Linked DNA regions of Homo sapiens. The protein of the gene in region 2 purifies or fractionates together with the protein of the main gene of each other region. This does not show direct contact. Each region holds a gene or a part of one and is shown on either strand. Other genes may lie near its edges.

The links.
Region 1: the proteins of STAT3 (region 2) and TCEAL1 purify together in Homo sapiens (affinity purification with mass spectrometry; 3 studies listed by BioGRID and IntAct, with this or other methods). This does not show direct contact.
Region 3: the proteins of STAT3 (region 2) and TRIM59 purify together in Homo sapiens (affinity purification with western blotting; 4 studies listed by BioGRID). This does not show direct contact.
Region 4: the proteins of STAT3 (region 2) and PIAS3 purify together in Homo sapiens (affinity purification with western blotting; 5 studies listed by BioGRID). This does not show direct contact.

Annotation. Positions count from the first base shown.
Region 1 is NC_000023.11:103,624,192-103,631,463, reverse strand, and holds TCEAL1 (transcription elongation factor A protein-like 1), read right to left. Parts: upstream 2,490-7,272; 5' UTR 2,439-2,489; intron 1,971-2,438; 5' UTR 1,891-1,970; intron 1,580-1,890; 5' UTR 1,548-1,579; coding exon 1,068-1,547; 3' UTR 511-1,067; downstream 1-510.
Region 2 is NC_000017.11:42,329,443-42,336,470, forward strand, and holds part of STAT3 (signal transducer and activator of transcription 3), read right to left. Parts: intron 4,608-7,028; coding exon 4,449-4,607; intron 4,324-4,448; coding exon 4,231-4,323; intron 2,090-4,230; coding exon 2,030-2,089; intron 350-2,029; coding exon of another isoform or gene 335-349; coding exon 305-334; intron 206-304; coding exon 112-205; intron 16-111; coding exon 1-15. UniProt on the Homo sapiens protein: Signal transducer and transcription activator that mediates cellular responses to interleukins, KITLG/SCF, LEP and other growth factors. Once activated, recruits coactivators, such as NCOA1 or MED1, to the promoter region of the target gene.
Region 3 is NC_000003.12:160,446,787-160,454,776, forward strand, and holds the start of TRIM59 (tripartite motif-containing protein 59), read right to left. Parts: upstream 3,001-7,990; 5' UTR 2,931-3,000; intron 2,010-2,930; 5' UTR 1,940-2,009; intron 1-1,939. UniProt on the Homo sapiens protein: E3 ubiquitin ligase involved in different processes such as development and immune response. Serves as a negative regulator for innate immune signaling pathways by suppressing RLR-induced activation of IRF3/7 and NF-kappa-B via interaction with adapter ECSIT.
Region 4 is NC_000001.11:145,849,073-145,856,100, forward strand, and holds part of PIAS3 (E3 SUMO-protein ligase PIAS3), read right to left. Parts: coding exon 6,996-7,028; intron 6,755-6,995; coding exon 6,664-6,754; intron 5,809-6,663; coding exon 5,674-5,808; intron 5,492-5,673; coding exon 5,386-5,491; intron 4,815-5,385; coding exon 4,741-4,814; intron 4,593-4,740; coding exon 4,432-4,592; intron 2,082-4,431; coding exon 1,948-2,081; intron 1,868-1,947; coding exon 1,699-1,867; intron 1,574-1,698; exon of another isoform or gene 1,515-1,573; coding exon 1,381-1,514; intron 1,198-1,380; coding exon 1,160-1,197; intron 641-1,159; coding exon 374-640; 3' UTR 1-373. UniProt on the Homo sapiens protein: Functions as an E3-type small ubiquitin-like modifier (SUMO) ligase, stabilizing the interaction between UBE2I and the substrate, and as a SUMO-tethering factor.

The DNA.
Region 1 (7,272 bases), on a different chromosome or scaffold from region 2:
ATATTAAAGCTGGAAGAAGGGCATTCATATATCTGCAGGAGACACAATTCAGCTTGGGCCCACCAGGGACTCCAGAGCAATCAGTGAGGCTTTGTACCTTAAGCAGTCCAGCACGTCAGCAGGGATGAGAGCCAGTGGAAGGATCAGGACCCAGGAGAAGGAGCAGCTGTGCCTAGCAGATACGGTAGGTATCTGAGAGTACAGCAGGACATGAATAGAATGTGGCACTCACTTGGAATCTCACCGGAATTGTTTGTGAGCACAAGTGAGATCTCCTTTGGGTACCTTCCCTATGTCTGCAGGGAATCTATAGGGGTTGGGGTCCTGCCTGTGCAGGTGGAATAAAGACCCCGAACATAGCTCACACAACCTTTTTCTCATCTGGTCCCACAGTAGCACTGTAAAGCAAGTATTATTCCTATTTAAATGAGAACAAAATGACTATTAAATATAATCCATATCTGGCTAATATTTGTGCCTAAGAGATTCAGAAAAAAACATAGGATTCACTTTTTTTAAAGTTCTGACAAGTATTTATTAAGTGCCACATTGTCGTTATAAGCTGATTGACAGTTTTCTTCAAAATTGTGTGATTTTTTCATTATATATTTTTGCAACACAAGTAAAACGTTTGTCCTGAAAAAATGAGAAATTCAGATAAAACAAAAATTTAAAAAATCACCTATTATCTTACCACACAACCACTGTTATGCCTTTGAAGTCTATACTTTTAGCTTTTTCTTTGCATATTAATATATAAATATACATTTTTTTTACAAAAATGGGATACAATATATACCATTTGAAAATTGCTTTTTTCGTTTCACAATATATAATGTACATCTTTCATGCAAATGTGTAGGGCTCATGACTGAAAGAGGGAAACTTGTAGATTTTAGGGGGAAACCTCAACTTTAAGCGAGTTACATGCTAAACATCTAAAATAAAGCCTCACAAAAAGTTAAAATTCAGAATATGGGAAAAGGCATTAAGAAAATGCAAACAGAAAGTCCAGGTGGCAATGGCAATACTATTAGCAGGCAAAACAGAATTAAAGGCCGAACACATTAAATAGGATAAGGACGGCTCCGTTTTGCCTTCCAGTGCATTATCATCAGTTTGTTTCTTACTCTTTTCATCTCTTCTAGCTCATCTGCTGCCTGTATCATCTCCTCATTGCTTAAATTTCTGCCATGTATGTCCCCTCTAAATTGCGGGCGAGAACGAGCCAACCTTTCTTTAAAGCTTCCTTCTTCAAGCTTATGTTTTCCTACTCCACAAGGAGGCTGCTCCATGGGAGGGCGCCCCTCAAACAGGTCCTTCCTGGAAAGACCCTCCTGCGGAGGGCGCTCCTCCGAGAGGAGCATCTCAGGCAGGAGCTCAGGCAAGAGCTCCTCAGGAAAGAACTCCTCCTCCGAGGACTGCTCCTCCGAAGACTGCTCCTCGGGGGACTGCTTTTCGGGAGAGTGCTCCACCGGAGGCCTCTCCTCATCGGTCTTGGGCGCGCTCTGCGGCTCTTCTTCATTTTCTTTGCGTGGTTTGTCCATGTTGGGAATTTTCTTCTTCAAGCACAGTTATTCTTAGGAGACAAGAAAGGCAGAATAGAGTCAGAATACTAAGCGGCTGGACTAACACCCAGGCCGTGGGTTCCAATACCTGCCTTTTCCTGATTCGGGGGCCAGGTCCTCAACCTTGCGCTTTCCCAGAGGCTCTCCGGCTCTCCCGACTCCGCCGCTTCCCGGTCGCCCCCTCCTTCCCGAAAGCCCACCATTTTCCCAGCAGGCTTTGCTACAGGCCTCGCCCGCAGTGACAGGGGCGGGACAGTGCGGCCTGCAGACTCCATGCCTTTCGGCGTCCACCCTCGCGCCCCAGTCCCGGCCCACTGCGTACCCCTTCCCTGACCTGGACCTTTCCGGGCCGTGTGCTCCTAGTCGTCCTCTCCTCGAGGTGCCCCGCTGTGACCAGCAGACCTGCACACAGACGCAAGACAGGGTAGGGGGCGGGGAGTGGGGAGGAGGGACGGACTGACTGACACCCCCCACCCCCCACTTTCTGGGCACCAGCCACTGCCTGCACGCTCCCCTAGCTCTCGGGTTCTCTTTTCGTCTCAGCCCCTGCGTCAAGCTTCGTCCTCCGTGCTCCCACCTCCCCACCCCGCAAAGCTTGCCATTTCTTTTCAGATGAGAAGTGGAAGCGAAGCATTTTTAGAAACTATTTCCAAATGTCTGTACCCCCCTCCCGGGGGACGGGGGAGGTACTCGCCTCCCCACCCCGCCCCAAAGACCACCATATTTTGCACAGAAATGTGGGCGCGGGGGGCGGGGCTGGAGCTTAGGGAAAGGCCTGGACTCCGCCATCCCGATTCTGTCAACCCCATTCCCCGGGTTACTAGGCAGCGCCGACACTCACACCGATTTAAGAGGGTAGAGGGAACTTACTTCTTCTGCTTTCCCTCTCGACCAAAGGGTAATAGGGAGATGGTGGACAGGCAAAAAAAAGACCGGGACGAGAGGGACTTGGGCACATAGAGGCTCCTGGTCACGTGAGGGACGCGCGTCACTGCCGAACTCAGATCCCCAGTTACCACTTTGATCTGCGGCCCTGCCGCAGCCACCTGCTAGTGCCTGCTAGTGTTCTCTGACCCGAGACACACCAGGCATTGTCACTCACCTCTCTTTGTATTTGCCTTTTCCTGGTTGCCAGAGACGGTCCGCATCTAGTCTCGGGTAGTATTGCCTCTTCCTCTGTGCTACTTCCCCTAGTACCACCTCTTTCTCCCCTCCTCCCTTCCTTAGCCACCAAGGCCCCTTATTTCCCCTGCAGTTCAGATCCTGCACTGACGTTTGACTGTTCACCTTCATAAATCAGTATTATATCCTTATATCCCAACACTCTCAGTTTTAATCCACATCCGTATCTCCATCATGTCCATTTAGGCTCATTCAGCATGTTTCATCTCTTGTCACTTTCATGGGAGACAATCTTTCACTTTTTCTTGACATCACATTTTGTTTTTTTGAGCCCCCAGATCTAAATTGGTAATCATTCAGTTCGAGACCTGTAGAAAGAGTTGAGTTTGTAAAGTTTGTAGATCTAAAAAGAATGAATACTTTGATTTTCATAAATCAAATACGTATTTGTCCATCTAAGTACAAACAGTCCAGAACACTTATTATCTGAAATGGGATAGTCCTTGGTGGAGAGCTTGGCATTATTCTCTCTATGTGTGTATATATATACACACATATATATGCGTGTATATATATACACGCATATATATGCATGTATACACACTGAATAGATTATAAAATATATTTATATACATGTGTACATATATATAAATTATTCAGTAGTTATTCATAATAGAATAAATAGATTTTACTGGGACTCTCAATCCTTAACCAGCCACCTCTTGGTGCTTCTGGTTGAGGAAGTTTATATTAATTCACTAAATCAACAAATATTTGAGTTCTGGGACTGCTGGACCCCAAAAGATAGATGCAGCAGGGAGGGCATTCCATATTAAACTATGCAATAATTCTGTTGACCACATACTGAATAGCAGGACTACAATTATGCTAGCATTTTCAATTGTCATTGCAATATGTATTTTTTTTTATCTAACAGTATTTTATGATCTTTAACCTTATGCCTGCCTCTCATCTACTCACATCAGCCTGGATGCTACTTTCTTATGCAGATGCTCTTTCCCCTACAGAGCATACTACTTCCCTTCCCTCTGTGTTTTACACTTTCAGGGTAGATGACCATCTGATCTGTGAGGATCCTGGGATTTTGTTTTAAAGCCAGGCTGTTTAGTAAGTTTCTGAACAGAAATTCATGTGAAATTTCCCCTTTTAAGAACTGTTTGTTGCTTTTCTCTGATATCTGATTAACTTTGTGTTGAGATAGCATTTAGACAAATATTAGTTTACCTTCATATCTTTTTTATAACTGTTTTACTTTCCAATTTCTCTGTGAGATGTGTCTTTAAAACCAAGTTTCACTATGCCTTCTTATTTTTTCATCAAGGGTTGGTTTCTCATTTGTATAGTTTCTTTCCTAGAGAAGTCCCATTTCATTCATTTCTATCCTTATTCTTCTTAAATCCTGTGATGGAGAACTCACTGCCTTATAAGATATCTCACTGAAATCTCAGAAAGTTCTAATCATTCAGAGTTTTAAAATTAATTAATTAATTGATTTTTGCTTCTGTTGAGTTAAAATCTGCCTCCCAGTAGTTTACACACATTGGTCCTGGCTCTGCCCTGTGGAGTGGTACAGAACAGGTATAAAATAATAAAAGTACCTTTCATCCTTGACAGCTTAAAATTGCCACAGCTTCTATTCTGGTTCTTTCCCCTTCCATTCTGTGAGACACACTAGGCAATCTACTCAATCTTCTGTGACTCAGCTTCCTCATCTACAACATTGGAGACAATAATAGTACCTACCTCATAGAATTGTAAGAGGAATAACTGAGTCAATGAGTCAACCTATGTAAAGGATCTGGAATAGAGCCTAGCACATAGAAAGCACTCTATAAGCATTAACTATAATAATAGTAATAATAATAGTATGACACAGTGCTAACAATACTACTAATTAACATCCTTTTAATATTAAGATTAATTGTGTACTTTATGCCAGGCATTGCACTAAGTATTTTCAATATGCCATCTCACATAATCCTTAAAGAATTATGTTCTCACCAAGACTTTTTTGGGGGGTTTAACCTCCCCAGTTATTTCAGCCATTTCTGATGTGACATATTTTTTCAAAGTCATTCATTATTCTACACATTCCTGAATGTGTAAATGTCTCTGAAAACACTGAATATACTGCCTAGTGCAGAATGGAGTGATCTTACCACCTCCTTCATTTTAGAATAGGTGCTATACATCTATGGATGCATCCTAAAATTATAGTAGATTTTGTGAATGCCATATCACACAATTGAATCCAGTTTAAGTTGCAGTCAACTAGACCCCTCCCTTATTTCATACTTCAAGCTGTTAATCCACTTCTGTAAATCTTTTTAGTTTTAACTCAAGTATAGAAGCTTCTAATTTTTTCTGGGTTAAATTTTGTCTCATTAGATTCACTCCCTCAATCTTTGAATCCAGATTCTATCATTCTGTATATTAGCTGCAAATCATTAATTTAAAGCATGCCACTAGTACTAAATAGGGTGATAAAGTCAGCAAACTCGGGAAAGATCTATAGGTATCTCAGCAGAGAGTTCTGACTCCAAGTGAAAAAAATTTCTTTTCCTTATTGCATGTGAAACCAGGAGTATGCCCTGCCGAGCTAGTTCCCTTCCTCTCATCTCTCATGTGGCTTCTCAGATTGCTTGCTTTCTAGTGCTGCTAATAGAAGACACTATAGTCCCTGAAAGCTCCTGCACCGGTATAAATTAAACTTTGATGAGAACTTAGTAAATATGGAGGGCAGATAAGGAGGTGTGAGGAAATAGAAGCAGGAGAGGAGGAATGAAGACCGAGTCTCCATGTGGGCTCTAAGTCTGCCCAGCAGTAGCTGATCTCGGGTTCCCTTAAGAGAAAGGACTCTCAAGAGGGAATAAGGTAAAGGTGATTCTGCTACCAAATGACAATCATTTGTTACAAAGAAGTGTGATCTGCTACTTGTTTGTGTAGGGTTGGGGTTGGGGTGGGGCTGTCCTTCTGATGGATTTGATTTGATACCCTTGATTTAGGGTCCTATGAGGGTATATTGCTTGGTCCATTATTACTAATGAGTGTTTGTTTTGAAACCCATTTCAAAAGTGTGACAACTGAGCTCTGGGAGGTGACAAATTGTTCCCATGGAAACACAGATGATAGTAAGTAGCTGAGATGGGATTTAAAACCTAAGGCTAGGTGCAGTGGCTCACGCCTGTAATCCCAACACTTTGGGAGGCCATGATGGGAGAATAGCTTGAGCCCAGGAATTCAAGACCAGCCTGGGTAACATAGTGAGATCCTGTCTCTAGAAACGATAAAAATTAGCCAGGCATGGTGGTGCACACCTGCGGTCCCAGGTGGTCCAGTTCCTTGGGAGGCCGAGGTTAGAGGCCTGGGAACTCAAGGCTTCAGTGAGCCGTGATTGTGCCACTGTACTCCAGCCTGGCCAATAAGAGATTCCATCTGAAAACAAAAGAAAACAAAAAAAACAAAACATAGGCAGTGTGGCATGAGAGATTGTACCTTTAACCACTATGTAAAACTGCTCCTGGGCAGTGGGCTCCACCCACATTTACACACAGCACTGGGCAGCTGCTGCCATGACAACAGTCTCCAAGTGGTGTGGCCTTTCTCTGGGGGATCTGAGAAAGCCCAGGGTGGGTTTCTCCTCCAGGGATTCCTGTTGCTGGGGAGGCTGCACTTCTGTGGCAGGAACAGAACCCTCCTTCTTTGCGAGTCCCCTTGGTTTCACTTTGCAGGCTCTGTCTGCCTGGACTTGAGGAGTTCTGCCCTCTCCAGCCCAGACGTTCCCTCTGTGGCTGCTGCCTCTGCATTCTTTCCTAATGGCACTAATGGCAGTACCTGCTCTCAGACCTGGACCTGTTGACTGCAGCAGGCCCTGTCCAGCCTGTGACTCTCATGGGCTCCTCCCCTACCCCTGCCCCAGGGGAAATTCCCAAGTAGGAAAAGCAATGACAGGAGCCTCCTCTTTTCTGTTTCTGCTTGTGGCCTCATCCTAACTGGGGCTCAAACACACACACGCACACACGCACACACACACACACACACACACACACACACACACACCCTGTATATGCTCAGAGAAACAAGGAAGGGGCTCTGAGGAAAGGCTAAGTAGCAACTCAGGCTGTTGGAAATGCACAGGGACAGGGAAGGTGGGTCCAGACCTGGGCTGAAGAGAGACAGTACTAGGCTTGGGTCTGGGCAAGACTTATGCTGTCATTCACTCCCTGGAGGCTCTGGAGGTGTGGCAGCCTCCTACCCCTCTCCTTGCCTCTATTTGTATCATTTTTCTCCCTAAATGGTGGGGGCGAGGGCTGTGGTAGAACCATGAATGAGGTCCCTTCTAGCTCTAGGAAGCAATGATTCCATACTGCCCACCATACTGAGGTGGGAGGGCCTTTGCTTACGAACACGATTTGGCCTGAGTGGGGACCACCTGCGGACTGTGGCTGCTGCTGCATTTCCCAGAATCCAGACAAGCTCAGAGCACATAACTCATTCTATTTTGGCCTTCCCTGCTGGGCTGCAACAGAGCCACAGCTTAGCCTTGGCCTTTCAGGGACTT
Region 2 (7,028 bases):
CTGCTCCCTCAGGGTCTGTAAGAAAAGAAAAAGGCAGGTGTCCTGTGAGGCTCTCCCTAGCCCTCTCCGGCAGCCAGAGGCCCTTTGTGAAGGGGAGCTCCTCCCACATACCAAGTGTTTGAATTCTGCAGAGAGGCTGCCGTTGTTGGATTCTTCCATGTTCATCACTTTTGTGTTTGTGCCCAGAATGTTAAATTTCCGGGATCTGAATCACAGGGGAACAATCAACTATGTAGGTGACCAAGTAGCCGGAGGATGAAGTTAGGTTAAACGGAACAAAAGGAAGCCTCTAGGCTGAACTTACCCTCTGAGAGCTGCAACGTCCCCAGAGTCTCTGTAAGAACACAGACTGTTGTTAATAAAATAGGCTCTGTGTTTCTTCAAAAAGCCTACTTTGACCACCTGTTATTTACTGTCATGAAAAAACCTCTGTGCTCCTGGGCATTTCTTTAAACTATTCAGTTACAGTTGATCAGCGCAACATAACACCTCTGCGTAGCAGGCACAGTTGGTTGCCTCCCCATAGGAAGGGGAACCTATGTTTCATATTGCATATGTACTTATTAAACCTACCACCTTCGTCAACTCCCTTATTTCATTATTTTCCAGTGCATCCTCATGAAATTTCCACATAATTACATCAACTAAAAATAAGAATGCATTTTATCTTTTCTTTTTTCTTTTTTTTTTTTTGAGATAGTTTCGCTCTTGTTGCCCAGGCTGGAGTGCAATGGTGTGATCTCGGCTCACCACAACCTCCACCTCCTGAGTTCAAGTGATTCTCCTGCCTCAGCCTCCCGTGTAGCTGGGATTACGGGCATGCGCCAACACACCTGGCTAATTTTGTATTTTTAGTAGAGACAAGGTTTCTCCATGTTGGTCGGGCTGGTTTCGAACTCTCGACCTCAGGTGATCTGCCCACCTCAGCCTCCCAAAGTGCTGAGATTACAGGCGTGAGCCACCGCGCCCAGCCACATTTTCTCTTTTCTTTTCTTTTTTTTTTTTTTTGAGATGGAGTCTCTGTCGCCCAGGCTGGAGTGCAGTGGTGTGATCTTGGCTCACTGCAAACTCCACCTCCCAGGTTCATGCCATTCTCCTGCCTCAGCCTCCTGAGTAGCTGGGACTACAGGTGCCCGCCACCACGCCCAGCTAGTTTTTTTGTATTTTTAGTAGAGACGGGGTTTCACCGTGTTACCCAGGATGGTCTCGATCTCCTGACCTCGTGATCCGCCCGCCTCGGCCTCCCAAAGTGCTGGGATTACAGGCATGAGCCACCGCGCCCGGCCCACATTTTCTCTTTTCTAATGTCGTCAAAGGGTATATGTATTTTACATCCTGAAAGGTATTGTGAAATTTTGCGTATTCCATTATATGGTAAAGTGTGGAACAATTAAAAAAAAGAGATCTATTCTTTCCACATGCTATGTATGGAAAGAATATATAACGACGTTTCGGTCAACAACAAAATGCATATATGATGGTGGTCCCATAAGATTATCATGGAGCTGAAAAATTCCTACTTCATTGAGATGTGTTACAATTGCCTACGGTATTCAGCACAGTAACATACTGTACAGGTTTACAGCCTACGACCAGTAGGCTCTGCCACATAGCGTAGGTGTGCAGTAGGTTCTGCCACCCAGGTTTGTGTAAGGACTATATACTCTACAACATTTGCACAACAAAATTGCCTAATGATACATTTTGCAGAACGTATCCCAGTCGTTAATTAACACATGATCTCAGTCTTATATATAATATGCATGAATGACATGTACAAGTAAAAAACTAAACAAGGAAAAGAGGGACTGGTTGTCACAATAGCAACCACAAATCAAATCTGTACCCCCAGCTTTGTGGCTTTGTTCAGACACGTAAATGACAATGCACCCCAAGGCTTTTGAAAACTTTTGTCCACAAAATGAAGATCTCTGAATAAAGACAGAGTCTCTAGTTCAAATGATGTCTGTCAAAGTTCTCATTTTTCTATTCCTCATTTGAAAAACAGAGCTAAGATAGGAGTACTTACTTGTCAATGCACACTTTAATTTTAAGCTGATAATTCAACTCAGGGAATTTGACCAGCAACCTATTTAAAAAGAAAAAATCCAAGGAAAAAAAGTCAGTAACTCTCCCATAACCTTTTCTTGAAGAAATGTAAAATTCATAATTCTTCATTTCCAACAGGTAAATAGGCCAAGCTGTCTATAATTACAGGCTCACATCTATAATCTCAGCACTGTGGGAGGCCAAGCTGGGAGGATCCCTTGAGCCCAGGAGTTCCATAACAGTCTGGGCAACAAAGTGAGAGCCCACATCTATAAAAAATTTAAAAATTAGCGGGGTGTGGTAGCATGTACCTGTAGTCGCAGTTACTCGGGAGGCTGAGGCAAGAGGATCACTTGTGCCCAGGAGTTCAAGGCTACAGTGATCTATGATCATGCCACTGCACTCTAGCCTAGATGACAGAGCGAGATCCTATCTCTCTTTCTCTTTTTTTTTTTTTGAGACAGTTTCTCTCGTTACCCAGGCTGGAGTGCAATGGCGCAATCTCCGTTCACCGCAACCTCCGCCTCCTGGGTTCAAGTGATTCTCCTGCCTCAGCCTCTCAAGTAGCTGGGATTACAGGCGCGCGCCACCACGCTCAGCTAATTTTGTATTTTTAGTAGAGACAGAGTTTCTCCATGTTGGTCAGGATGGTCTCGAACTCCCGACCTCAGGTGATCCACCCACCTTGGCCTCCCAAAGTGCTGGGATTACAGGCGAGAGCCACCGTGCCTGGCCCCTATCTCTCTCTTTAAAAAAATTAAAATAGGGCTGGGTGCGGTGACTCACACCTGTAATCCCAGCACTTTGGGAGGCCAAGGCAGGTGGATCACAAGGTCAGGAGTTCGAGACCAGCCTGGCCAAGATGGTGAAACCCCGTCTCTACTAAAAATACAAAAATCAGCCGGGCATGGTGGCAGGTACCTGTAATCCCAGCTACTTGGGAGGCTGAGGCAGGAGAATCACTTGAACCCAGGAGGCAGAGGCTGCAGTGATCCGAGATCACACCTCAGCACTCTAGCCTGGGTGATAGAGAAAGACTCCATCTCAAAAAAAAAAAAAAAAAAAAAAAGGCCGAGCGTGGTGGCTCACATCTGTAATCCCAGCACTTTTGGAGGCCGGGGTGGGTGGATTACTGAGGTCAGGAGTTTTGAGACCAGCCTGGCCAACATGGAGAAACCCTGTCTCTACTAAAAATACAAAAATTAGCCGGGCATGGTGGAGTGTGCCGGTCCAGCTACTCAGGGAGGCTAAGGCAGGAGAATCGCTTGAACCTGGGAGGTGGAGGTTGCAGTGAGTTGAGATTGCAACACGCACTCTGGCCTGGCCGAAAGAGCGAGACTCTGTCTCAAAAAAAAAAAAATTAGCCGGGTGTGGTGGCACGCACCTCTATTCCCAGTTACTCAGGAGGCTGAGGCACAAGAATCACTTGAACCTGGGAGATGGAGGTTGCAGTGAGCTGAGATCATGCCACTGCACACCAGCCTGGGTGAGAGTGAGACCCTGTCTCAAACAAAAACAAAAGATGAGTATCACTCCTTCAAGCCAAAGGTACTGAGAAAACATCTAAGAACTAACAACTTAAAGTTGTGAGAGATTCACAAAAGGATAATCAAAGCCATATAATGAAAAATATTACAGGAACACATGCTGTGCAGCTGGCATTTTGTTCTATTAATCCTGAAACCGAACACCATACTAAGTTTCTGAGGAGGGAAATTTTGCTGCAGAAGGTCAAAACCCCAGCACACCTGTTCTGACTTGAGTGTGAAAGTAACACCTCACCCTACAGGCCCACCACCCACCTGCCCTGGGGCCTCTCAGCTTCCCCATCACTAAGCCTTACTCTTTCCCTTAAAATCCACAGGGAAGAGTAGCCTCAAAGAACAGAAAATAGATGACATTATTTTGTCCCTTGGGCAGAAGGAGAAGCTGTGGCCTGAGACTCCAGGTCTACAATCATAGGAATATGCCCAGGTACCTTCAAAAAGATGACTGCTCTTTTGCTTTTGACATCAGAATCAGAGAGCAAGCAGATAGTATGGCAACAAATTTCAACCCCGCAACAGTGTACTGCCTGTGACACCACACCTGGAAAGAATGACCCTGGCCACCAACTCTACCCTCACCCTAACAGTGTCCCTCAGTAAAATCTCTACTGGAAATGGAAGTGGCATGGCCTACCTGACTTTAGTAGTGAACTGGACGCCGGTCTTGATGACGAGGGGCCGGTCAGGATGCATGGGCATGCAGGGCTGCCGCTCCACCACAAAGGCACTGAGGAAAGAGAAGATGGGCTCACGCGCCACGGCCATGACCAGAAGTCAGCCCGCCTCTCACTCTACCACGTGAGTCTTTAGGTATTTTTTAGATGAGGGAAAGGGACAAGGATGCTAAATTACCTTTTCATTAAGTTTCTAAACAGCTCCACGATTCTCTCCTCCAGCATCGGCCGGTGCTGTACAATGGGGTCCCCTTTGTAGGAAACTTTTTGCTGCAACTCCTCCAGTTTCTTAATTTGTTGACGGGTCTGAAGTTGAGATTCTGCTAATGACGTTATCCTGCCAATAAATTAAGAAAGATGCTAATTACCAAAGTGAATGTATACAGGTGAGATGGAGAAGGGGAAGGAAATACTGAAGACATGGAGACCACTACAATAAGAACAAGGAATTTTTTTATTGTGGTGAAATATATATAGCATGAAATTTACAATTTTTCATCTTAAGTTTACAGTTCAGTGACATTAAGAAAAGAGGAATTTTTCACCATGTTGGGTGGATGCTGAAAAAATAAATAAAAAAAGAAAATAATTTATTTATTTATTTATTTTTTGAGCTGGAGTGCAGTGGTGCAATCTCGGCTCACTGCAACCTCCATTTCCCGGGTTCAAGTGATTCTCCTGCCTGAGCCTCCTGAGAGATTACAGGTGTAAGCCACTGCGCCTGGCCTTTTTTTTTTTTTTTTTTTTTTTGAGATAGAGTCTTACTCTGTTGCCCAGGCTGGAGTGCAGTGGCACAGTCTCAGCTCACTGCAACCTCCGCCTCCCAAGTTCAAGTGATTCTCCTGCCTCAGCCTCCCAAGTAGCTGGGATTACAGGCACCCACCACCACTCCCGGATAATTTTTGCATTTTTAGTAGAGATGGGATTTTGCCTTGTTGGCCAGGCTGGTCTTGAACTCCTGACCTCAGGTGATCCATCTGCCTCGACCTCCCGAAGTACTGGCATTACAGGTGTGAGCCACCATGCCTGGCCAGAAAATAATTTATTTTACCTTTTATTACTAGTCCCTTCCTAAAATCTCAAATTTCTAAGAGGGGGCTGGGCACACAAGAAGTATTAAAATTTATACCACTAGGAGGCATTGATGGAGTTATCACTGGAAAATGACAAGCATCTGAGCCCAGATATGCAGAACACGAAATATGGAATTTAGCACTTACTTTACTCATCCTAACTTGTCTATGAACATAAAGACTCAGAAAAAGAGATTAGACAGCTCCCAAAGATGGGTTTGAGCCAGCTCTGTCACACACTATCTGTGCAAGCTTTGCCAGGCCCTTCACCATCATGGGCCTTAGCATCCCCTTGCATGAAGAGAAGGGCTTGAACTACATGAGCCCTTTCTTTTCTTTCTTTCTTTTTTTTTTTTTGAGACAGGGTCCCACTCTGTGGCCTAGTGCAGTGCAATGGCATGATCATAGCTCACTGCCTCCTCCAACTCCTGGACATGAGTGATCCTCCTACCTCAGCTTCCTGAGTAGCTAGAACTATAGGTGTGTGCCACCATGCCTGTTTAGTTTAGTTTAGTTTTTTGAGATGGAGTCTCACTCTGTCACCCAGGCTGAAGTGTAATGGCACATGTCTAGTTTTTTAAATTTTTGTAGGGATGGGATCTCACTTTGTTGCCCAGGCTGGTCTCAAACTCCTGGGTTCAAGTGATCCTCCCGACTCTGCCTCCCAAAGCATTGGGATTTACAGGCGTGAGCCACAACACCCAATCCCCATAAGCCTTTTCAATGTCAGCCTTCAACTGATCAAAGGACATGACATTATGTTTCAAAATATTGATAACATGCACAAGGAATAAGTGAATAGAGAGGGAGAAAAAGCTCATTAAATCTATCTCCAAGAATAGAGATATTAGGCCAGGTGCAGTGGCTGACACCTGTAATCCCAAAAATTTGAGAGGCCGAGGCAGGTCGATCTACTAAAATACAAAAAAATAGCCAGGCATGGTGGCATGGGCCTGTAATCCCAGCTACTTGGAAGGTTGTGACTAAGAATCGCTTGAACCTGGGAGGAGGAGGTTGCAGTAAGCCAAGATCATGCCACTGCACTCTAACCTGGGTGACAGAGTGAGACTCTGTCTCAAAAAAATTAAAAAAAGAGAGAAGTTAGCATCATTCCATCATTCTTTGATGGTTTATCACTAGTGTAACAAAGACCAAAAGACCAGAAAGACAGAAAGTGAAAGGAGAGGGAGGGGGACCGCTGCAGGGATTTCTGAACTCCTGAGCTCTTTTCTGGCACTTCTATCCTCCCATTCCCAGAACTTAAGCTTCTTCGTTCCCTGGTCAGGAAGCATTTAAAACTGCTTTCAGTAAATTAACAACACTCAGGGTTAGTGAGGATATGAATAGACAGGCATTCTCATGTAGAGTTGCGCTAAATTTCCAGTGCAGGCTCTGTATCTCAAGTTTCTCCTAAGGCAAGCTGGTGCAACATGCTCACTATAGGGCCTTGCACAGGAAGGGTTGCAGTAAGATATGCTGGATGAAGGTAAAAGTGCAAATTACAGAAAAGCATATAAAGGAAGATCCTGGGCTGGGCACGGCAGCTCACATCTATAATTCCAGAGCTTTTGAGAGGCCGAAGTGGGATGATCCCTTGAGCCCAGGAATTTGAGACCAGCCCAGGCAACAAAGTAAGACCCTGTCTCTATAAAAAATTTAAAAATTAGCCAGGTGTGGTGGTGCAT
Region 3 (7,990 bases), on a different chromosome or scaffold from region 2:
ATAACAGCGTGAACCCTACTGTGAACTGCGCACGCGAGGGATCTAGGTTGTGGCTCACTGTGAGAATCTAACTAATGCCTGATGATGTGCGGTAGAACAGTTTTATCCCAAAACCATGCACCACCCACCCCCACCCGTCCACAGAAAAATTGCCTTCCACAAGACCGGTCCCTGGTGCCAAAAAGGTTGAGGACTGCTGGTTTAATGGGTACACAGTTTCAGTTTGGGAAGATGAAAAAGTTAACGGAGATAGTTGATGGTGATAATTACAAAACAATTTGAATGTATTTAATACCACCAAACTGCATACTTAAAAAGATTAAAATGGTAAATTTTATGTTTAGCATATTTTACACAATAAAAAAAAAACTTTAAAAAATTTTCAAGCGTCTTGCCTATTATCCAGTCTTCCTTTTGCTAAATGAATTTGAATCAATTTATACTACTGTATGTTTTTAAAAAGCAAAAAAGTAAAATAATCCATGTAAAATGTATTTTCCTCTAGTGAGTACTAAGCTCATGTAAAAACCAAGTTCAAGATTTCCTGCTTCTCTTTTAAAACCGAGAAATATTAATATAAAAAAATGAATCTTCTCAGAAAGAAACCTGAGGCTAAATCACTCTACTTACAAATTATTTCACTAATGTCTAGTGTGTTTAAGTGTCAAAACAAATACATTTCTGAATTTCCAAACTTTTTATTAAGTCTTTCTCCAGAGGGCCAATTCACTAGTGAGCCTCCCTGATGTCTAACTGGCATATTAGGTAATAGACAGTATAATAGATGATTAAATAGCACCGAAAATATCATTACCCATTCTCCTGTGTAAACCAGTTTTTAAGTTTTAATTCACTAATGCTTTCCTGCCTTTCAACTCTAAACATGAACAGTTGTAAAACGTTCATTACATTTCACAACCTCTGAAAGGAAAATATATTTATTACATTATAGAATTCGATGACTTGTCCCAAGACTTCTAGTGAGTCAGCTTTAAGTATGGGAAAATTCAAGTGGTGCCACCACCCAAACTGGGGCTCACATCTTTGTGGACCTAACTGATAAAGAAGAAATACATTTCATGCAAGTCAAGACTTACTTAAGAAATAACTACAACTGCACCATTTATAAACATATATAAGATTTTTTTAACATTATCGCAGAAAGTCTGAGAAACAAGATTTTTAAAAATAATTCTGTCACATATAAATATACAAAAATAGTGAGAGATCACCTTAACTTTTTCAAATTAAAAAAATCCTATGGTCAGCTGATTTTAAATCTCTTTGTCCATCTGTACTATTTTCTTTCATTTTGATATCAACCTGTTTCCCTAAACTAAAAAATAAAAATAAAAACTAGAAACAAAACAAAAAAAGACTATTAATTCAATTTAACCGGAATTGACTTGAGAAATTAAGGCTTTAATTGCTTTTGCTGTACTTTTCAAAGTAAAAATATATCTGGTGGGAAATATTCATCAACGTGTTTAGTGAAAGGCAATGTCAAAACTAACATCACCTAAAATCAAAATTTCACCTTGCCAGATTAAATAGCTACTTACTCATTTAAAAAGACCAATACATGAATGCATAGTGAAAAAGTATCCAGGTAACTTAATTTGCAGTTTTGTGTAGTTCTGCAGATCTGTATGTATAAAATAACAACTTTGCATGTGTTTTGAGATGTACACATTCTTGTAAAATTTCTAGAAGGATGTACAAAAGAGTTAAGTGACTACTTTTAAGGTACAGATCAGAGAAGGGAGTTGTTTATTTTTCACTTTATGCTCCGCTCCTTCGATAAAATGGTTGGAGTTTTATACACCGCCAACACAATGTTTTTTCAAAAGACTTCTAAATTTCACTTTGTAGTTTAAATCATACACTCTGTAAAAACTTAATTGTTTTTCATATTTATTTAATCTCCCAGATTACCTACTTTGTTGATCTCGTGGTTTGGGGGCTGAATACACTCTTCTCCAACTCCTCCAGAATCTTTTATTCTTATTCTAAAATTAAAATAATGTTATCTTTAATGTTTTCAATTTATTGTCTCATGTCATAAAAATGGTTGTTAGTTCACTGTCTTTGATATTTATCTTCACGATGCTTCATCGTGTTTTCAGAAAAGCCACAAACACCAACACAGTTGCTGGAGCTGCAGTAGAGGTATCGCTTGTTCCTTGAAAATCCTAACTCTGACCAAACAGACTGTCACAAAGGACCTCTTTTCACAACGTCAAGTAGCTTATGAGCTCTCGACAATATTACCCAACAATGGTGATGGCAGAAAAAACATTCACGGTCATTTTAGAGTGCTTAAAATTAACTGCAAGACAAAAGCATCCATGGGAGTAAAATACCTTGCCAGCTCTAAATTATAACTGATTTAGTATAGTTTGCTCATCTCTCTGTTCTGCCATTTCAATGCTGTGGGACCTGGGTCAGTATTACCAAATACCTCTCAAAAGTGAGGCTTCACATCTGTAAAATGGGTAACTGCACCTACCTCACTTAAGTCCTGCGAGCACCTCCCACAAAGGGGCTCAAAATGGCAGTACTCTTCCCTTCCCCTTCTCAAAGCTCCACTCTCCCAGGCCTCCCTCCTAACGCGCCTCCACCTCGGCACCCGCCCGTCCCCAACCCCGCGGGACTGACCGACTCGGCGGCGTCCGCTCAGCTCACCCTCGCCACCACAGAGGGCCTCCTCCCTCACAGGAACGCAGCTCCACAGTGGAGGGACGGGAAAGTGGCTCCCCAAACTCCAGTATGGGACAAGAGGGAATGAGTGCAGGTCCCAAGCCACTCCCTCCATCGTCGCGCCCCCAGGACTCCCCGCCCAACACACTAGGCACACCAGACTGTGCTACAGGAAAAGAAAAAGGACTCAGAACCACCTTCTCCGCATCCGTAAAGGTCCTTAGACTCACCGCGGGGAGGAAGCGGACCAGGCAACTCCACAGCACGGAAACACAGCGCCACGAGCTCCAGGCGGATGCTGAGAGCCGCCCCGAGTCCCCGCCCTCCTCTGCCCCGAAGGGCTTCAGGTGCCCAGACCGGGCGGGGCCTCGCGGAGCCTCGCAGCGCAGGCGCAGTCTGCAGGCAACATTCAACTGCAAGGCATCGGCCAATGGGAACTATTGCTGGGCTCGTTCGAAAGTAAACGGTGGACGGCGCGGCCCGAGGCAGGTGGCGGGAGTCAGTTTAAGGCTGGCGCCCAGCTTTCCGCGCCTGCGTGCTAGGCGCAGGCCGCCTCTCGGAAGCTTGGCCTCGCAGGAGCGGCTCTCTATCCTGTGGGGAGCTTCGGCCAGTGGGCCTCGTGAGCTGGGGTCCCGCCTGGGGAATCCGCATGGCACCGGTGGTCTGGGGGAGAGGCTGGGCCTGGCGCGGGACGAGGCGAAGCGCCGGTGGCCGACGGCTTCTGAGGAATTATCTTTTACTTGGCGCCACACGGGGCGGGGCCTCCTGCTATGCTGTGGAGCGCAGTGTCTTCCATCGTTGCCTCACAGACCCGCTGCTCCGGGAAGTCGCCACACATTCTCAGGGAACACCCACATCTGTCGCCTGCGCCCTCCGCCGCTCAGCTGTTTGCTTTTGTTTACGCATTCCGGAGACCTGACCCACCGGAGCACTGGGCTGAGCACAGGAGAAGGGGCTTTGGAGCGCTCTTTGTACTCAACTCCAAGAGCGAGTGGGAAACTCAGGACTGGGTTGGGTAGATCCCTGCGTCTCTCCCTAGCCTTCGTCCTCTTCCCCCGTTTTTCCACTTTATGAAAGTATTGCCTAGAGATGAGGGCTGTCCAACTCAACACTTCCAACTTCAAGTTCCTACTTCACCTCTAACTCCCTAGAGTTAGAAAACAACGTACAGCTTAGAGGTTCCTTTCCCTTTTTTTCTTGAGAAACTTTATTCAGCTTTATCTCAAGACATCACCGCTTCCCTCTCCTGTCAACCTTAAATAGTGAGGTTCTGGAAATATGATTAAGGATAGAGTTTATTCCAGCGTAAGGCTTGAGGGTAGCCACCCAGGAGACACCAGCTCCAAATGGGGTTAGCATTCCAAAGTGAAGAAGTTAGGGTTTCGCCTAGGTGGCCAGAGACAAATTTTAACAGGATTTCATTTCCCCTAAGAGACCAGTGCATACTTACAGCTATTTGGTAGGTTACAGATTACTACATTCCAAGAAAAAGTATTTTGTTACTCCATGAGGGGGGGTAGTGATCTCAGGGGGTTGTATCTCTGGTATGGTTTGGTCCTCCTATTTTAATTATTTATAGAAACAAAAGGCAGACGTTGCAGATGCCTGCTGCTTGACTCAGGCTGTAGCCACATTCCTCCCAAGGCTCGGAATAAAGTTCCAACAGCTTTAAGTTTGAATTATTTAACTTCCAATAACTATAAAGTCATTTTGTTTACTAATGTGCTAAATAAAGATATGGGCTCTAGGCCAGGTGCAGTGGCCCAGGCCTGTAATCCCAGCACTTTCTGGAGGCCAAGGCAGGTGGATCACCTGAGGTCAGGAGTTCGAGACCAGCCTGGCCAACATGGTGAAACCCCGTCTCTACTAAAAATACAAAAATTAGCCGGGCATGGTGGCAGGCACCTGTCATTCCAGCTAGTTGGGAGGCTGGGGCAGGAGAATCGCTTGAACCCGGGAGGCGGAGGTTGCAGTGAGCCAAAATGGCACCACTGCATTCCAGAAAAAAAAAAAAGCTATGAGCTCTATATACTGCACATTGCAGTACATCCAGGTCCTAGGCTTTTATTCAGTAAATTACAGAAAATATTAAAGATATAAAGCAGAAAGTAAGGCAATATTAGGCCTTAGTCAATCTCAGATAGCTTCACCAATTCAGCTCCTTAAAAGGTTGCTTATGAAGTGTGAATTGTAGTGGTAGCTACTGTTTCATGGTGGTAAATATTCGTTTTGACTTTATGTACATTTTCTATTAAACATTGGAGTCATCCTGATAGACATCTTTGTAACTTCCTGTCAAAACAACATGTGGGACAGGCGTGGTGGCTCATGTGTGTAATTCCAGCACTTTGGGAGGCCAAAGTGGAAGAACTGCTTGAGCCCGGGAATTTGAGAGCAGTCTGGGCCACAAAGTGAGAACCCAGCTCTACAAAAAATAAAATAATTAGCCGGAGTGGTGGCTCACACCTGTAGTCCCAGCTACTTGGAAGACTGAGGCAGGAAGATTGCTTGAGCCCAGGAAATCAGGGCCACAGTGAGTTATGATCACACCACTGCACTCCAGCCTGGGCAGCTGAGTGAGACCCTGTCTCAAAAACAAACAAAAAAACCCAACGTATTATGAATTATTTTTCCATAGCAGTAAATGTACTATATTTCTATTAAATTATTGTCTTTAAACAAAGTTTAATTGCTTCTGGAATTGAATTAATATGGCTGAAAATGTTTCTGAGCTTTAATGTTTTTCACCTGTTTTCCCCTCTGTGCTTTCTTACCTCAAAACGGTTATGTATGTAGCAAGAAAACTGAAGAACCTCACACTAGACTTACTGGCTGTTGTTTCCCAAAAAGCCTGAGCCCATGGAGAAAAATAATATTTGAGAGACCCCGCCTGCTGGGGCGCAGGCGGCAGCGGCGTGGCCATGAAGCTGAAGGTGAAGAACGTGTTTCTCGCCTACTTCCTGGTGTCGATCGCCGGCCTCCTCTACGCGCTGGCCAGCCATGTGACTGCCTTCCTCCCCTGCGGGCAGCAGCTGAGCAGCTACGGCAGAAGGATCTGAGGATTTCCCAGCTGCAAGCGGAACTCCGACGGCCACCCCCTGCCCCTGCCCAGCCCCCTGAACCCGAGGCCCTGCCTACTATCTATGTTGTTACCCCCACCTATGCCAGGCTGGTACAGAAGGCAGAGTTGGTACGGCTGTCCCAGACACTGAGCCTGGTGCCCCGGCTGCATTGACTGCTGGTGGAGGATGCTGAGGGTCCCACCCCGCTGGTCTCAGGGCTGCTGGCTGCCTCTGGCCTCCTCTTCACACACCTGGTGGTCCTCACGCCCAAAGCCCAGCGGCTTCGGGAGGGCAAGCCTGGCTGGGTTCATCCCCATGGTGTCGAGCAGCGGAACAAGGCCCTGGACTGGCTCCGGGGCAGAGGGAGTGCTGTGGGTGGGAAGAAGGACCCATCACCACCAGGGACCCAAGGAGTCGTGTACTTTGCTGACAGTGGCAACACCTACAGCTGGGAGCTGTTTGAGGAGATGCGCTGGACCCGTGGTGTCTCAGTGTGGCCTGTGGGGCTGGTGGGTGGCCTGCGAGTCAAGGGCCCTCAGGTACAGGACAGCCGGGTAGTGGGCTTCCACACAGCATGGGAGCCCAACGGGCCCTTCCCTGTGGATATGGCCGGATTTGCTGTGGCCCTGCCCTTGCTGTTAGCTAAGCCCAATGCCCAGTTTGATTCCACTGCTCCCCGGAGCCACCTGGAGAGCAGTCTTCTAAGCCACCTTGTGGATCCCAAGGACCTGGAGCCACGGGCTGCCAACTGCACTCGGGTACTGGTGTGACATACACGGACAGCGAAGCCCAAGATGAAGCAGAAGGAGCAGCTGCAGCGGCAGGGCCAGGGCTCAGACCCAGCAATTGAGGTGTGATGGCGGCCCCACCCCAACTACCACCTCTTTTCAGGCACAGACCTTGTGGGACTGGGCCCCAGGCCTGCCCAGCATGTGGTTTTCCAAGTCCTGACCGCTTGAAGCCAGAAGTGGCCCCTCTGCCCCTCCAGACCCAGGGCATGGTCCTGCTGCTTCATCTCTCCCCCAGCCTGCCATGTGGCACTGCCCACAGGCTGGGGACAAGCAGCCCTTGTATTGAGCCAGGTTGGCCCTGTCTAGGGTGGAACAGAAGGACAGACGGACCCAGGAGGGAGGGCAGCTGATTAACTGGGTAACTTATTGGGGCTGGGCAAGCACTGGGGGGCTGGAGGAGCTGGGCTGGACCCTCCCTACCTGAGCATGCTGACCCCCTTCCTACCTCCAGAATAAAGAATCTCAACCTGAAAAAAAAGAAAAAATATTTGAAGGAAGAGGCCGAATGCTTGAGAGAAGCAGAAAGAATTGTTTGCCCCTAAAATAGAGATGATTCGGGTCCTAGTGGGGGAAAACTATGACACCAAAAGGGAAGGGTTATATTGGTGCCTCCAGGGAGTCTGCTTTAGAGGCCCATGGGTTCCCAACCCTGCCAAAGATTCAAGATTTCTGTAGTCCAGCAATAATTTGGGGGTTGAGGAGGCTGGGATGGTGTGGAGAACCACAGGAGCCTACAAAAACAATGGTGGCCTCAGTGGTGGCAGGCAACTTGACATATTTGGTTTTGTGGACTGTGATTAACATACTCTATAAAAGATAATGTTTTTCTGGGAAGGTGGGACAGGAGAACTAATACTCAAATGCAGGAGTACATGCTTCAAATCCATAAGCCTAAAACTCAGGTGATAAGTTGCTCAGCCACCCAAAAAAATGGTGGGGAAGAGGACAGTTGAGCTGCTTGGGCGGAGGGTGGGGGGTGTCTCTCTCTTTTTTTTTTTTTTGGAAGATGGAGTCTTGCTCTGTTGCCCAGGCTGGAGTGCAGTGGCGCGATCTCGGCTCACTACAACTTCTGCCTCCCAGGTTTAAGCGATTCTCCTGCCTCAGCCTCCCAAGTAGCTGGGATTACAGGCATGTACCACTGTGTCCCACTAATTTTTGTATTTTTAGTAGAGATGGGGTTTCACCATGTTGACCAGACTGGTCTTGAACTCCTGACCTCAAGTGATCCACCCACCTTGGCCTCCCAAAGTGCTGGGATTACAGGCTTGAGCCACCGCACCCAGCCTTACTTCCAGTAATCTTTTGATAGAATATTGGAAAGAGATAAAAGATGATAAACATTTGCAGTTATTACCAGGTGTGGAAGAGGAGGCAATATAACATTAATTTTATGACAACCAGGCCGAGCGCGGTGGCTCATGCCTGTAATCCCTGCAC
Region 4 (7,028 bases), on a different chromosome or scaffold from region 2:
ATTTGGGGTTCAAGAGAGGTGCCCCTTCCCCAAGAGGCTCTAGACATAGTCAAGGCTGAGGGTTCAGCCCTTCTCCTAGCTCACATACCATCCCATTTGCCTCCCACTGCCTAGGTTAACATACCCAAAGGAATGTGCCACCATCTAAAGAACATTTCCAGAAACAGACCCCAGTGTCCTTAAAAAGAGGTTAAATATTAACCCTTTGGGTGCTGGCCTTGTCAGGCAGAGATGAGGCCAAAAGTAGGCATCTGTGAAGGTCTGTCTGGCCCTTGGCCAGAGCCCCCAGAGGGATCAGAGTAGCTGGGGTTGGGACTCCACAGCATACTTGCTCAGTGTTGGGGGACAGCGAAGTTTCCATAATCCAGGGAACTCAGTCCAGGGAAATGATGTCTGACCGACAGCCAGTCAAAGAGGGACCTGAGGGCAGGGGTCCTCCATGCCCCTCCCTCAAGGCCCCCCCAGGGGCCACAATGCTGCTGACACGGCCAGGAGGGGGCGCCGGAGTGGCGCTGCAGTGGGAGCTCCCCAGCGTGGGGGCCAGTGGGCCCAGAAAGTGAGAAGGGGTCCCTCGGTACTGGAAGAAGTGGCCAAGGGCATCCTGTTCATCTAGTGAGGTGATGACAGAGGGGCCATAGTGCTAGGAAGAATCAAGGGCATAGTTTAAGATCTCAATCCCGACTTCCCCACCTCCCAGTCACTCATCTCAGAAATGCCGTATGAGAGCAATCAACCCCTGTGGATCCGAAGGTATTCTCTTGAGAAGCAGGAGAGCCTCTCCCTCTTTCCCCTACTTCCCTACACCCTTCCCCTTTCCCTGCCTTGAGAGAGCTCCTCCAACTTGTTAGGTTCTTGGCTTTGTGGGCGTCTGAAATGTGTGGAATGTCCGGTTAGAGCAGGCATGGTGCTCTAAGTGCACACGGGGGTAGGGGTGAGTAGGCCAGGGCAGAAAAGTAACAGGGGATCTAGGAAGGAGGCCTAAGTAGGAATCTCAGGAACTACCAGTGGGGCTGAGGAGATAATAAGATACCTACACCCCACTGCCCTCACGGGAAAGCAGATTTACATCCCCAGAGATCATAAGAGAGGGAGGGGCCCCATCAGTGTCTAGAAAGGAAGCTTCAGAGATCTGAGACCTTCTGAAGAAAGAACCACTTACCTGACTCTCTGTCTGAAGAAATGAAAATAAATCTAAACCTGGCAGGAAAAGAAAAATCAAAATTAACCTCCTATCTGACCCCTTTACCACCAAAAGACAAAGCACTGTGGACTGTGGCCCCTTGCAGGAGAAGCAGGAGGCTTTGAGAAGGAACAGGGGTTCTGATGTAGCTCTGGGGAGGGTGTGGCAGTGCAGGGTCCATCTTATGACCCATGTCATACCTTGGATGTCGGCTCCCAGTGGGAAGGCAGGTGGGTACTCATGTAGTGGGAGACTGGACAGGAAATCCCCACCCAACGTGCCCATAGCAGGGCTCCTTAGCACCGAGGATGGCTGGTGGCCAGATGTCAGGACTCTGTGGGTAGAGAGGAGCTGAGGCAGCCAGCAAACCACAGATGCCCTCACCCAGCTCAGGTCCCCAGGTTCCCTCTCTGTCCCCTCCACATTTCTCTTGCCCCAGGCTTTGTCCAATGATCAGAAAGCAATCCTGACTTCTTCCCCTGTCCGTTTTGCTGTAGACTCAGCCTATTTTCTCATACCCTTTGCTTCCAGGTAGGGCCGGGATGGCAGCTGAGGTGACAGAACAGTGCTTCTTGGTAGGGGGCAGATCCTCCTCATCTGATGAGCTTTCTATTGTCAAGTCAATAACTTCGACCTTCTTCTTATTCTCTGATGGATCTCCCCCCTGGACTGGGCTGTACTGGAGGCCTGTGGGTATTAAGAAGACTACGTCTCAGAGAAGAGGCCATCCAAGATTTAGCTTAGCTGGGGAACAGGGGGTCACTCACCATCCAGCCCATACCCTGGCGGGGGGCAAACCTCAGATGCCTCCTTCTTGGGTTTCATTGGGCACCAGGATCCATCTTCCATGAATTGGATCTCATCACAATCTGAACAGGAACTAAGAATCTCCATAAATAAACTGGGGGAAGAGAGAGATGAAAATTCACGGGGCTGGGAGATGAGCAGAACAGTAGCCAGAGTTCTGTAACTCACCTTCCTGTATCTCAGTTTCCTCATCTGTAAAATAAGAACATTATCCATCCTACTGGACCGCTCTGAGTTGTTGGAATCAAATAACACAAGGTATGTAAAAGAGCTTTGCAAAGTAAGTAATAGGTTTTAAAATAAATACAATCTGAGGCTGGGTGCAGTGGCTCACGCCTTTAATCCCAGCACTTTGGGAGGTACAGGCAGGTGAATCACTTGAGGCTGGGAGTTCAAGACCAGCCTGGCCAACATGGTGAAACCTCATCTCTACTAAAAATACAAAAATTAGCCAGGTGTGGTGGCACATGCCTATAATCCCAGCTACTTAGGAGGCTGAGGCACGAGAATCGCTTGAACCCAGGAGGCAGAGGTTGCAGTGAGCCTAGACCACACCACTGTTCTCCACCCTGGGAAACAGAGCAAGGCTCTGCCTCAAAAAAAAAAAAAAAAAAAAAGCCGGCGTGGTGGCTCACGCCTATAATCACACTTTCAGAGACTGAGGTGGGTGGATCACCTGAGGTCAGGAGTTCGAGACCAGCCTGGCCAACATGGTGAAACCCCATCTCTACCAAAAATACAAAATTAGCCGGATGTGGCGGCACATGCCTGTAATCCCAGCTACTCAGGAGGCTGAGGCAGGAGAATTGCTTGAACCCAGGAGGCAGAGGTTGCATGAGCTGAGATCACGAGACTGTGCCATACCACTCCAGCCTGGGTGACAGAGTGAAACACCGTCTCAAAAAAAAAAAAAAAAAAAATCTGAGCACTTACGTGTAGTATAAGGAACAAAAGGAGCAGAGACACAGAAGTCCATAAACCATCTCCAAAAGGCACTGGGTCTTTGGCTTTCTAAACACTTGTGTAAAAATAAATAAATAAAGGCACTAGGGGCCAGGCATGGTAGCTCATGCCTGCAATCCTAGCACTTTGGGAGGCCAAGGTGGGAGGATCACTTGAGGCCAGGAGGTCGAGGCTGCAGTGAGCTATGATTGTGCTACTATACTCCAGTCTGGGCAACAGAACGAGACCCTGTCTCAAAAACAAACAAACAAACAAAAAGTGGGGGAGCACTGGGAACAGGAACCATAATGTAGATTCCAAAAAGAGGTTAAGACTAGCAAGATCAAAAGATTAGAACATCCAGGCCCTGAAAAGAACCTTATTGCAATGCTCAGTGGGAAGTCAGGTAGTTGTTATAGGTGATATATTATGACAGTTCAGTACACTGGCTCTGCCACTTAACAATATAACCTTGAGCAAGGCTCAATCTCTCTCGGCCTCAGTTTCCTCATGTGTAATGATACTACCTATCTCATAGGGTTTTTTTTTTTCTTTTTTTTTTTCTGGGTGAGTGTCACTAGCCAATCATAGGATTATTTCTTTTTTTGAGACAGGGTCTCAATCTGTTGCCCAGGCTGGGGTGCAGTAATGCAATCATAGCTCACTGCAGCCTCAAACTCCTGGGTTCAAGCCATCCTCCTGCCTCAGCCTCCTGAGCAGCTAAGACTACAGTCATGAGCTATTATAACATGCCTGGCTAATTTTTTTAATTTTTTATAGAGAGAGGGTCTACTATGTTGCCCAGGCTGGTCTCAAACTCCTAGCCTCAAATGATCTTCCCATCTCAGCCTTCCAGTGTTGGAATTACAGGTAGGAGCCGAGTCCATAGGGTTATTGTGAGGATTCAATGAGATAACTCATGCAAAGTGCTCAGCAAGATGCCTTGTATATACTAAGTCCTTAATGTTGCCCTCCCCCTCCACACACATGCACATACACACACACACACACAGACTGGTAAAAGGGATAGATAAGGTGAGAATTGCAGTTCATGTGAGGGGAAGTAAGCCATATGAATTAAAAACCCTGAAGGAGGTGGTGGCTAAAAGAAAAAAGAAATATTATAGGCTGGGCATGTTGTCTCATGCCTGTAATCCCAGCACTTTAGGAGGCTGAAGTGGGCAGATCACCTGAGGTCAGGAGTTCAAGACCAGCCTGGCCAACATGGTGAAACCCAGTCTTTACTAAAAATACAAAAATTAGCCAGGCATGGTGGTGGGTGCCTGTAATCCCAGCTACTCAGGAGGCTGAGGCAGGAGTATCGCCTGAACCCGGGAGGTGGAGGTTGCAGTGAGCCAAGATTGTGCCACTGCACTCCAGCCTGGGGAACAGAGTAAGATTCCATCTCAAAAAAAAAAAAAAGAAAAGAAAAAGAAAAAGAAATAACCAAGAAAAGAGGTTCTAGTGGATGTCCTAGGTAAGAGGAAGCAAAATGGCCCTACCCATCAATGATAAGAGATTCATAGGGAGCCTTCTTGTCACACACAGGACATGTCCATGTAGGCTTCTTCTCATTCATCTGTAGATAAAGGGCAGCATCGAAGCTCTGCAGGTGGGCGCAGGTGAGGGCACGACAAGGGACAGTCAGGCGCATCTTCCCTAGCTGAGGAGAAGCAAGTTCTCTTGTCAGAGGCCCTACTCTGATTTCATCCCAGAAAACTTCACGCCAGTATCCCTAGGAACCCTCATCAAAGTCCACAGGCTAAACCCAACTCCCTTCCCACCCTGTTCCCTTCTCCCCTTTTACCCACCGGGCACATGAGTGACACCCGGAGACTTGTAGTGGCCACCTCACTGTCAGGGTCAGCAGTCAATTTCTCCTTGACTGAAACAAAAGTGAGGCCAGAGCCATGGGGTCAGCAAGGCTGGAGGAAGCCCAGGAGTTGGTAAGGCCAGGAACAGATGGCTCTGGCTGAGAGGCTGCTGGGTGGAGCGTCTTTGGGGGCCAGTGGGACGTCACATGGAAGTGGTCTGGGATATGGATGATGAAGGCTGGGTGTGGGGGATTTTCCCATCCCTGAAGATGCTTAAACATAGCGTGACACTCTGGCTATGTTAGAGATGATCTGGAGGAGTTGAAGCATCATGTGAGGGTTAGATTAGAGGACCCCTAAGATTCTTTCCAGTCCGGAGAGCCCATATTCTAGCAGGGCTGGAGTTAGGGACTGTGAGGTGCAAAGCAGATACATGATTGGAAATTCAAGGGTGCCTGGGAGTGGTCCAACTTCAACTATAAAGACTGGAAGACTGGTCAGGGGTAGAGGGGGAGGGTTGGGGTTCATGTGAGAAGGGGAGTAAGTTGTCAAAAAAGAGGTATGGGTTTAATTATGAAGGCTGGAGGGCCAGGAAGACTTGAATCCAGATCAGGTGGGGAAGAGAGGAAAGATGTTACTCACTCAGTGCCCGCGAGTGGTCTGGGTTCCGGATACCCTTTGCTCTGAGTTTTTGTAGAAGGGTTCCTGCAGTCAACTGCCTCACCAGGTACACAGACAAGGAGTAATTCTACTTGGAGGCAGGGGGTAGACAATTAGCCTCTGCTTCTCATACCACCACTGCCCACTTTTGTTCCATGAGGACCAGAGACAGACTCATAAAGAGGAAAATGCTTCCCCAACCCAGGACACTGGATGGTTCCCCTTCACCCTCAGCAGGCTTTTCCAGGCACCTGCTTTAGCTGTGCTCACCCGTCCGAACTCAGATGACCAATTGACCACAATGGTGTTGGGAACAGTGGCTGAGAGTCGAGCCAGGGGTGTGATGTTGATGGGGCGGCTGGGCCTCTTGGGCTCGGCCCCATTCTTGGTTGGGGGAAGGTAACCCTGGAGAAGGGAGGGATTGGTCAGTGGAGAAGTGGCTCTGGGAAGGGGCTCTGCTCTTTGAACAAAAGATATCTTGTCTCGGGTTATTCAATCCCTGGAGGGAAGGCCAACTCGCTCACTCACTGACCAAGGGGATGGAGGCCCATTCAGTGGCTCACAAAACTGGAGCACTGTCTAGGGTTATGTGTGGGGTTCACTCCTGGGGAGAAAGGAGAGCTTATTTATTGACTGAGAAAAAAGGAACTCACTGAGTCCCTGAGGAGGAGGAATAAGGATGCCTCACCTTTTCTAACTCTCAGCTCTGGGGTCAAGTCTTTCTGGCCGGGTGTACTGGCTCATGCCTGTAATCCCAGCACTTTAGGAAGCCGAGGTGGGTGGATCACCTGAGGTCAGGAGTTCGAGACCAGCCTAGCTAACATGGTAAAACTCCGTCTCTACTAAAAATACAAAAATTAGCCGGGCAGGGTGGTGGGCACCTGTAATCCCAGCTACTTGGGAGGCTGAGGCAAGAGAATTGCTTGAACTAGGGAGGCAGAGGTTGCAGTGAGCAGAGATTGCACCATTGCACTCCAGCCTGAGTGACAGAGCGAGTGACTCTGTCTCAAAAAAAAAAAACAAAAAAGAAGTCTTTCTTACATCTCGGGTTGAACTAATGTCCTCCTCCGAGTTCTCACAAAACCTTTGTTCAGCCCTATCTTAATACTCTCGAGATTCTATTGATTCAGTCAGTAAACTGAGCACCTACTATGTGCCACGCACTGTGCTAGGCATGTCTCTTTCAGAATAGGTTTGTAGTTAATATTTATGAACTGAAACGGTAAGGGATTACTGACAGAAGAAGGGGAGAGCATTTACCGGCAGGGGGCACAGTTTCCCATTGACCTTGACAAAGAGGTTGGGGGGAAAATAATCTTCCTGGGGGCAGCTGGTCTCACAGAGACAGAACCTGGTAAGAGATGAGAAAGGAAGAAAGAGTGGGAAGAAATTTCTTAACTTGAATCTGGCAGAGAGACAGGGAACCCCAGAAAATCAGTCATAGATGCCTGAAGCCCTCAGCATCCAACAAGAGTCGCAGGGCTGCAGTAGGCAGTGGCAGAGCAGGGACATCTCGTAAGGGTATCTGTCATACCCCTACTTCACTCCTACCCCCAGTGGGTACCCAGGATAGGCAGGGAGGATGAACTCACCTTAGCTGCACCTGTATGGTATAATCACATTTG